Linked DNA regions of Homo sapiens: region 2 is linked to region 1. Evidence: fine-mapped QTL for protein levels in blood plasma. Region 1 holds a variant in brackets. A gene starts in the other region. All regions are shown on one strand. Distances are between the middles of the regions.

Region 1 (5,383 bases):
CAAAGTGTATCAAGATAGAGATAAGTAAATAATATAGTGAAAGATAAAACATCTATCTATGTAGATGTAGGAATGCAAAGAAACAGTATGAAAACACAAATGGCGAATCAACTTCCTTAACTTCCTTAATGCTTATAGCCTACATCATTCTGCTTGTGTGTTTTAAATTTCATCATGGATTTAATGAAAGGTATAGAAGAAACTGCAAGGCAGGGTTAGAAAGCAGAGCACACTGGGGATTCAGAAACTATGAACTATGAACTATCTGAACCAAGTTAGGAGATTTGGTTGAAGAGATTTTATCTACAAGGGGAAGATTAAAGATGCTTAACGAATTTGAAATATGTGACCAAAGGCTCTTTGCCAGCTCTTCTCCAGCTTGCTCTAGACCAGACAAAGAACTTCATTTAAAGTACAGCATGAGAAATGATTCTGATGAAAGGATTTGTTAAATGCTGTTACAGAAGTCAAGTACAAGGTCCTCAAAGTCATTAATCATAGAATTTAGATTTACTCATTCATGGTTGTGTCTTAGTCCTCCTTGTAACTTAGATTTATTCCATTTTAGTGATTTTATGTGGTTTACTTTAGAAAAAAATGCCTTAATGATCCAACTGGACCAAAATAATATGATCATCTTTAAAAGCCATTAAAATGACATTCAAAATCTAAAAGTGAGTGAATCAGTGATCATGAGGACATTCAAATATTGCATCTCAGGCCTCATAAAATCCATTGATACCATATTTTTCTCTAAACCAGAAATATTTAGGCCAAAATGGTTCAAGCTATTTTGATCATTTATTTTTTTTATCTGGTCTGGGACCCTGGGCCTAATGTCTTACTGAGTAAAAATCAATTGCTAGTAATTATACTAGAATAAGTACACAATATTGGAAATCAGAAAACAACCTGATCCTTGAGCCAATCTTCAATACGTTTATGGTGCTGAGTCTTACTTTCCTTAGCTATAAAATAAGAGGATTGGACTAGATTCCTACAAGTGGTTGCTCCCATTTTAATTGCTTTAATCCTAGGAATCTACTATATTTAAAAATCCAAAAGAGCTGTATTAAAGGACAGTGTGACAATGTGAATATGGACGTTGTAGAGAGTTTCAGACAAGTCTTAAATGTTTACAATATAGCCATCCTGCTACATAAAAGTTTGTCTCCCAGAGGATATATCTAAATCATTCTTTGGCCTGCCTTAGCTCTGGGAGAGACTAAACAAGCATCATGCATGAATTGTGCATGCTTGTAAAGCACACAGAAATATGTTATTAGAAAGTAGTATTTAACCTAAATAGAAAATCAGTAAAGTAGCATTTTAAATTATCTTGTAGCCTGATGAAAATTCAATTAGAACATGACACCCAAACATTTAGGAAATGAAGAAGTTTTCTAAGTACTTTAAAAAAGGAAAGAGAGATTGACTCTTCATATTTTCAAGAAGTAATTGGGAGAGTTATGTGAACTGGAAGAGGCCTCAGATGTGAAATGAACTAGGCTTCATGTAAATGAAAGGTATAATGATGGCTAAAACACGTACAAATCAGATAGCACCTGCCTGAAGTACTTAGACCGGGGAAAGAAGGAGAAGAAAGAAGATAGTGTTCAAAATGTTTGCTTAGATATTGATTAGAAGGTGAAATGTCAACTGGGCTTTCTTGCTAGACTGGGTACCTAGCAAACGCGATCCCATGAAATAGGCAAAAAGAAGTAAAGAATATGCACATCAACTATTTTATGTGACATGGTCTCAAGTTAGCGATTGATATACTAAGAGTGTTTGCCTTTGAGATGTTTTTCCCCAGTAATAGTATCTAGATTGCTTGAAGAAATTACTTTAAGTGCTTTAAGAAACCACTTAAAATCTGATAAATTCACTAGATGAATAGAATAGAATGAAAGACCAATGAATTATGCTTTTAATGAATTTATTGCAACTTTGTTGTCATTTTCTACTTCACACTTCTTTTTACCACGTATATTTTATAGCAAAAACACACAATTTTTCCGTGTGGGTGAGAATTTGAGTTATAGCCACAATATTATTGTTGAAGTATGTTTTTCAAAGTGTTTACAATAAAATGACTCTGGTAGTATGTTACAATATTGTGAAAGAATAATAATAATGATCATTAAAAGCAAAGTAATGAACAAAACCAGAAGCCACAAAGAAACCTTTCCAAGAGAGCATTTCCAACATTTTATATAAGGATGAATATATTCTTATATTTCCTTATATGGAGAATAATATATATGACATGCTGGAAGAAGAATAAAATAACTTAAAAAAAGAGAGAACGAACCAAACACAGAATGTACTTATTTTTGTTACTGTTCAAATTATTATGATGGGAGTTGCACAATAATGTTTAACAAGCACAAGCTTCAGACTCCATCACATCTGAGTTCAAAGCCTAAGCCCTAGGAGCTTGGTCAAAAGCCTCAATCTTTGTGAGTCTGTTTGCTCATCTATAATATGTGGATGGCAGTTCTGAGCTTATAGAATTTTCATTATAATTAAGTGAAATCACAAAACCAAATCAGTTCCTCTTAAGTGAGAAAAAGTGGCAAACTTTGTTGTTACTATTTTAATATTTATTATGAATATTTATACTTACTACCTTTTTCAATATCTATAATTAGACAATAAAAATATTTCCATTTTAAGGCATTCAATAATAGCTCTGTTAGCTTATAAAATGCTTCCTTGAGTTTCTTTTGGTTTGGTAAACATTTTTTTAAAAACCTTCATTGAGATTGCTTGGTTTTCAATATGATAAAGTGTAGGTCTCTATTTTAAACATCTTTTCTGAGAAGATAAGTAGCTATGTGATTTGCAAAATGCACAGCTTGTAAGTCTTGTAACTTTAAAATATTTCCCTTCTACTCTCTGCCTGCAGCCCTTCATCTCTCCGTTTCTTGGTCACCAGTTGAGTACAAACTCTCTGGTTTTAAAATGTTATCTATGTAAATTCTTCTGCCACAGCTGGACAAGATGCATTCAAGAGTTTTTCTGTTTCCTGTGTGGTGAAGCAGCTTTCCCCTAACGACTATTTCCCATCAGTACCACAAAGACCTACCTTCTTAACCACTGTTTCAACGGTTTCTTACCACTTCCACCTTTCTGTAGAACATTTCATTTGGAAGGAGAGTCACAAATACTTGTTCACTGGGCTGTTCAGACTGATAAC[G/A]TCTCTTGGGACTTGAACATTGATGCACAATTCTCATCTGGAAAAAAAATTCAACTGTCAAACATTGGCAAAGAATACCAGAAATGAAAACAAACTCTTTTCTGTCTTAGTGTCACCATAAGATAATTTGTTTTGCTCTCTTAGAGAATAAAATTCTTTACCTTTTTTCTAAAAATCAAAGTAAAAACATTTCATTATTTGTCTATTTTGCTTACTTTAGCAAAAATTTTAATACATTTGGATTCTAAGCATGTGTTTTACTGATAAATGCATTAAATTGTTATTAGAAACTTTAGACCTAAGAATAGAAAATCAAATGAGATTGACAAACATGGTAACATAGGCTTAATTTTTTAATAAGGAATGAGAGAATTCTAGTACTTTATTCTAATACAATAAATAATGTCAAGACTTTTCTTTACATGTTCAAGATTTTTCATCTAAAAAAAGACCCATGTTAATTATTAACTGCAGAAACAAATTATAAGTATTATGTCTACATTTCTTATAAAGAAATAATATCTTAATATAGCCTTTAAAAATCATAATTATTTTACCTGCTCATTTGTAAAATACTAAATGTATTTGAATTATTTTTCATAAATTAAGGAATTATAAAAGTTTAACTGTCATTTGTATATTATATCTTGATCTTTTCATTCATTTTTATTTTCTGGATTTATGGTCTTTGTTCTTATGGTTTTCATTCTGTTATATGTTTCCAAGATATTTTCAAATAGAGTTTTAACTGAGTGATGCTAGATTAGAACATTTTCTAGTTCAAAATATTTGATGATTCAATAACATAAATTATGTTATGGCTCAAAATTACCCCTCCCCTCAATAAGCACACACTGATAAGCAATGACATGTGTGGAATAAAAATGACAAGAAAGTATGGCTCTGTCTCAACAAAAGGCAGAACTGACAGCTAATGTTTGTTATTGCTCTAAGCACCAGAAAGTGTGTACTAAAGAATACTAGGTTTTTAGACTGTGAATAGGTGTTCCACATACAACTACAGACATGCCAATATCTACTGGAATAAATTGGATAATTTCTTGCTGAAATAAAGTTAAGTTGGTATCTTTACACAGGTGTTCTCATAGACTTTGATGTGTTAACACTGTGAACATTCCAGAGAAGGATATGGCACAGATCTCTTGAAGCACCTCCTAAAACTATGAAAACACCCTTCGGCTCTATTAATATGTAAAACAAATATTGGCAAATTGTTGATTAAGAATCTGCTTATGCTGTTTTTCTGTACATTTAAGTAACCACAAATTGTGTTTTTTCTTTCACAATATGTCACTTCCTTTCCATTCTCAATGTCCCCACCCTAGTTTGGGCTTTTGCCTCTCTCTGCCCACCTCTAGTTTCTCTTCTTGTTCCATCCTATGAATTTAATCATATTAATCTTCTTAATGCAGCTCTAATAAGATCACAAATTTCTTTGAATATTTGCCACAGTTTCCTTTATGAAGAGCAAAAATCTTTCAAAATGTAATCTGATATGCAGGGGTATCTATAATGCAATCCCAACCAACTTTCTAACGTTTTTTTTTTTTCAAATGGCATTATTTCTTGACCCACCTGTTTGATGAATTGACCTGGTCACCAGTCATGTCAGAGATTTATTTTCTCTGATCTTTTGATCACATTAGTCCTTTGTCTGGAATATGCTCAACCAGCTTGTTCCTATTGAGATCCAGTGTAGTCCATTCCTTGGTTCAAATTGAAATGAAATTTCCAGCATGGAACTCTCAGATTCTTCCAACAGGACAAAGCCTTCCCCTCATCTGAAACTCCATAAAAGTTTCTTACAAAACTTTTGAGGTATATATCACATCTGTGTGTAGTTGCCTCAGTTGCCTGTCTAAACTGTGAAATGGTTTGGGATAGGAGATAGAACATCAGGGAGAGATTTCTGCTAGGAAGTCCATGGCTTTAGGCAGTGGTCAGTTATATATGAAGTGGGTGCAGGGGCATTCATCTGATGAGTTTATTATTCTGATAAAGTAAATGCTAAAACATTTCAGAATCACTTCTTTAAGAGAAGAGCTACAAGATACTCATATTACCTTCGGCAAAACAGCTTTTATTATTTTATCCTTTTTATACTTTATTGAATACACCAAATTTAGAGTGTGTTTTCCAAATATTTTATATGCCTTCATA
Region 2 (5,383 bases), 110 Mb after region 1:
GCAGTAAAGAGCAGAATGAAGTCCTATACTTTATTTAACCCGGGAGCTAAACAAATAAACAATATATAATAAGAATAAATAGGCTGGGTGCAGTGGCTCACGCCTGTAATCCCAGCACGTTGGGAGGCCGAGGCAGGCGGATCACCTCAGTTGAGGAGTTTGAGACTAGCCTGACCAACATGGAGAAACTCCGTCTCTACTAAAAATACAAAATTAGCCAGGCGTGGTGGCACATGCCTATAATCCCAGCTACTCGGGAGGCCGAGGCAGGAGAATCACTTGAACCCCGGTTGCAGAGGTTGCAGTGAGCTGAGATCGCGCCATTGCACTCCAGCCTGGGAAACAAGAGCGAAACTCCATCTCAAAAAAAAAAAAAAAAAAAAAAGAATAAATAATGAACTAATTTAAAAATAAATAAATTTTATATTTAACCAGGGCAAGCTTAAGGTAAAAGATCAACTTTCACCTGTAACTTTGATGGAAATCCTCCATCTGAGGACACCATTAAGTGATTTCTGACGCTAAACTGGGGCTAATGGGGCTGCCTGGATCCCCTAAGAATTTTGCTTTAGAAGTACTACCTAGTCGGTCTTAAAGGTTTGTTATTTTACTTTTGGTCCCACTTCCCAATGTCAGTGTCAGAGCTGTCCTTGAGACTCCTCAAATTTGGGCAGGGCGTGGTAGCTCATGCCTGTAATCCCAGCACTTTGGGAGGTGGAGGCGGGTGGATCACCTGAGGTCAGGAGTTCGAGACCAGCCTAGCCAACATGGTGAAACCCTGTCTCTGCTAAAAATACAAATTAGCCGCGAGTGGTGGCGTGCACCTGTAGTCCCAGCTACTCAGGAGGCTGAGGCAGGAGAATTGCTTGAACTGGGGAGGCAGCAGTTGAAGTAAGCCGAGATCGTGCCACTGCACTCCAGCCTGGGCAACAAGAGTGAAACTCCGTCAAAACAAAACAACAACAAAAAACAAAAAAAACTCCTCAAATGTGAAGCTGAGAATTTTGAAGCTCATTTATAAATTCACACCACCCTTGTGGGAGGGGAGAGAAGGCAGATCACATCTCTGGGCTCAGTTGGGGCAACCATTCTAGGATGCTCAGAGAGACCTGCTCCTAGAAATCCAGAGTTTCCTAAAAGCTGGGATCAGAGTTCTGGCAAGAAGGCTGTAGCCTGGGCCTTGGCCCTAGACCACCAAAAAAGTGAATACAGGCTTAGGCAGTGTTCATAGAGGCCCAGCATCTGGAACAAGGGTGCTGCTGTAGTCTGTGCTGGTCAGACCACACAGGAAGAATTGTTTATTTTCCGGATACTATGATTTTAAAAGGATACAAGCAAATTGGTGTGTATCAAAAGGAAGCTGACCAGAATGTTGAAGGGACTTGGAAACCAAATCACTAGTTACTTTTCAGTGGTTTGGGCTCCAGGACTGGAGGGGGTTTAGGGTGGGGGGTAGAGGATGGTGTTAGGCAGCATAGATAATTAGAACTGTTTTCAGATATGCAAATGCTGTTTTGTGAAAACACACACACACGCGAACACACACAAAACAAGAAAAACTTGTACTTTAGGTAAGGCCAGAAAACAGAACTGGGACCCGTGGGATTTAAGCTCAACATGAAGAATCTGTAAACCATTATAGCTCTTCAAAAGTGGGCTAGACTTTGTAAGCACGCAAGGTTTAAACTGTTCAGGTAAAGACCAGGAAGCCCTCCAGCTGCTCTGTCCAGACCGAGGCCGGCTCTCCAAGTCCGCGCTGGGGACGATGGGAGGTGTGCACCTGCGACAGAACACAGGTACCGCCAGGTCCGGGTAGCGGTGGCTTTTCGCCGAGGTCCCCCGCCTCCGCATACTTCTTGCCCTCGCTGCTTCCCCGGCCGCCTCTCCTGGCCCCACTCCTCGCCCGGCGCTCGCCGCTACAACTCCCGCCTGGGCTGGCGCGAGACCCGCGAGCGCCGGAGTGGGCGCGCGGGATGCGCGCGGGCCGGCGCCCGGAGCTCTGGGCATGCTCAGTCGCGCGGGCAGGGCTCCGGGCGCGAGCTGGGCTCCTTCTGCACCACATTCAGCGGCTGCCAAGAGGAGCCGACGGGCGCTCGCAGGCTCAGCGCGCGCTGCCCGCGGCAGGACCCGGCCGCCTCCGCCGCCGCCGCCGCCCCTAAGCCTCCCGAAGCCATGGCCGGGCTCGGCCACCCCGCCGCCTTCGGCCGGGCCACCCACGCCGTGGTGCGGGCGCTACCCGAGTCGCTCGGCCAGCACGCGCTGAGAAGCGCCAAGGGCGAGGAGGTGGACGTCGCCCGCGCGGAACGGCAGCACCAGCTCTACGTGGGCGTGCTGGGCAGCAAGCTGGGGCTGCAGGTGGTGGAGCTGCCGGCCGACGAGAGCCTTCCGGACTGCGTCTTCGTGGAGGACGTGGCCGTGGTGTGCGAGGAGACGGCCCTCATCACCCGACCCGGGGCGCCGAGCCGGAGGAAGGAGGTAACTGCCGACTCGAGGGGCGCGGCCGGGGCGCGCGCCAGGCCCTCCCCCGCCGCCGGCCGCCGTGTTGCCTGGGGAGTCGCGCCATTGGCCCTCGGGCTAGTAGTTCACAACTTCCCGTCGGGGGGCGAGTGTGTGTGTGTGTGTGTGTGTCAGAGAGTCAGAGAGAAGTTCATTGTTCACACCTCCCGGCTGCCGGCAGCCTTCTGGAGGATCCGATTCAATGTGGTTGTACGGTCTCGGGCAGGTGGGTGGGCGGGGGATTCCGTCTCACGGGCATTTTTATTTGTGAAAATTAAACGGCAGCGACGACAGTGCAACTCTGAGTGTTTCCCAGGGAGCGAGGGCCGCGAGGGGTGCCGCTCCGGTAGGGCGGGTGGAGGCTGGGCGTCCCTCCAGGGGGCAGCGCCAGTCGTGACACCGAAGCCCCCAAGTCCTGCCTGGCGCTCGGAGCAGGACAAGCTGGATGAATTAACGGGGTGTCGGTGCCCACAGACCTGGGGCTTCTCAAGTTAGTTTTCAGTGGTGGCGAGTGAGTCCCAAAGAACGGGACTAGTAAGTGAATGAATGGAAGGAAAAGTGTTTTGTTGGTGAGCTGTGCTAAATGTGTGCATGAATGGGCTAGGTTTGAAAAGCTGTACTCTGTGCGGTGTTGGGTGTGTGTGCTAGCGAGCGTGTTTAATTAGAGATGGTTGTTTCACAAATTCCATAATTTTTATTCTCTATATTTTTAAACTCACAGCAATTAAGAGAGTTTTTCTGTTCTCAAGGGTTGTAACTACTTTGAAATACTGCAGCTTGTGAAATGGCTGATTGCTTTAAGTGCAATGTAGGTTAGTGGGGAGAGACAAATAGAGTGAGATTGGATTTTAAAATGCCATCTGGCCTGGGATTCTTCTCATTGCCAGTTAAGAGCCCAGGCTCAAGACTCCGTTGCTATTGGCATCCAGTGGCATTGCAAGAAGCTAGTGGTTTCTTTCATTTCTGGAGATTTAAGAATTTTTTTTCTATTTTGTCTGTATTCACTTCACATTGGAAATGCCTCATAGAGCTTATGATAAAATATGCTTATTCCTCACCTGCTCCACTACTTGGTTGATGGAATGCCACATGGTCTGAGAAAATAAGCATATTCTACTAATTTCTCATCGAGATAATCAGCTTTTATTTCACCCTCCATTAACAGAAAACCAAAAGAGTAACAGATCTCTGCTAGCCCTTTGATGTCTTTGCCACACCTCTCCATCTTTGAGTCTGTGAGATGTCCCACTCTTTTAAACTGATAAGGAATGTAATCCCATTTGAATACTTTCTAATGCGTTCTAGGCCAAATGGCAGAGCTATGGTTTGAACTTAAAAGAGCAAAATCGATTTCAAAACCCTTTCAAAATGGCACTCTTTTGATGAGAGTAGTCCAATTTCTTCTCAAGAGACTGTCACCATATTTATTCACCCATTTCATTTTATTCCTATAATAAAAGCTTCCAAGCTTTGGCCTCCCTGATACCTAAGTGAGCAGTGATCTTTTTCCCCTGCCTAGATTTTGAAGCATACATTTTAAATTGGTTTAATTCTGATATCAGCCTGGTGGCCCACTGCCAGAAGTCACATGGTGTAGTGGATAAAAACATTAGACTGAATCTCAGCTCTACCACTTTCTAATTCTGTGACCTTTAGGGAGTGTCTCTTGCCTCAGTTTTCGCATCTATACAGTGGACATAATAATACCTGTTTCACAAAGTTGTTGTAATAGATGTATTAATCTACCTGAAATTCACAGGACAGGACATTTGATGAATGTTGACTATTATTATTCACTTAACTATGGATCAGGGAAGATTTACTCCGTTAATAAGAAGTCAGCTATACACTGATGTAGTTAGTGACATCTCTCTACTATGTGATACTGCCTCTGGGTTTGGGTCTCCTGCTGGTGCCTGCCTTTGCATTGCACATGATCTGGGTCACCAGGGTAACAGGCCTCCCAGGCAGGGAGAGGAATATGGGCAGTCAGTGTTGGATGGGATGCTTCTGGAGGGCAGAGTCATGTAGGGCAATGCTTGTAGAAATCTCTCACGGCACCAGCTCACCGCCTTGGTAGGTGTTAATGCTTGTTGAGTGAGTGGATGAATGAATGAATGATGAATGAAATGCTAATACAAGAAGATAGTTACTTCAAGACCCTCTATGGATTGCTGTATATTTTTTTCATGTGATGTCTGCATTCCCAACTGTGAAAATCCACAGTAGCCAAGGAATTATTTTAAAATTATTGTCACTGATCTCTGCCTCTAGTCTTGTCAATTTTCCATTCCATTCCCACACTGTAGCCAAGCTGGTCTTTTAAAAACTCAGATCTGATCCTGTCCCTTCTCTGACTAAAATTCTCAAGGGGCCCCCACTGAGCTTAGATAAACCCATTGAGCTGGGCTGTGCTTGCCTTTCCAGCTTCAGCTTCACCTCTGATCCCACCCCAAGCATCCCCTGATCCATGGATCGAGCGAGGTTCTTTCACTGAAGCTCACCAGACTATTGCTTTTATTTTGTCCGGGTACTCTTCCTCTTTCCTCTCTTCCCTTTTATCTGTCTTAAGTTCTCAGCTTACTGTTATCACTATTATTAGCTAATATTTATTGGGTACTTGCCACTTGCCATACACCATACCAGATTTATGATGTGCATTTCATTAATACTCACATCAACTCTTTGAACTCAATACTATCATAATTCCTATTTTAAAGTTGGTGAAACTGAGGCCTGGAGAGATTAAATAAATTGGCCAGGGTTATAGAGTGTAACCTGTAAAACCAGGATTTGAACTCGGGTTTAGAGAACTCCAAAGCTCTAGTCCCACTTAGACATCACTTTTCCAAGCATGGAATTGGTTCTCCTTTTATGAGCTCCTAAA

Alleles and levels. Positions count from the first base shown, and alleles are read on the strand shown. Strength reflects both the effect of a copy and how common the allele is.
In carriers of allele G in region 1, the plasma level of the protein whose gene starts at base 2,059 in region 2 tends to be lower than with A alone (weak association).

Evidence for each region. PIP is the chance, under the fine-mapping model, that this variant and not a neighbour inherited with it causes the effect. Protein levels are from antibody-based Olink assays in UK Biobank. Linkage for the fine-mapping came from a reference panel and not from the study's own genotypes, which makes the PIPs less certain.
Region 2: it holds the start of DDAH1, and the variant in region 1 is fine-mapped to the plasma level of the DDAH1 protein (UK Biobank, PIP 0.97).

What each region holds. Positions count from the first base shown.
Region 1 is chr1:199,039,412-199,044,794 of GRCh38, reverse strand. LINC01221 (long intergenic non-protein coding RNA 1221) reads right to left here. Exons shown (of 3, transcript NR_126351.1): 2 at 3,123-3,239. Among named protein-coding and RNA genes, the nearest start is that of LINC01222, 23 kb to the right of the region's middle. The variant G/A (reference allele first, on the strand shown) is at 3,203.
Region 2 is chr1:85,461,835-85,467,217 of GRCh38, reverse strand. It overlaps DDAH1 (dimethylarginine dimethylaminohydrolase 1), which reads left to right and starts at 2,059. Exons shown (of 6, transcript NM_012137.4): 1 at 2,059-2,475. The coding sequence starts at 2,173. RefSeq lists silencers at 1,801-2,210, 2,451-2,650.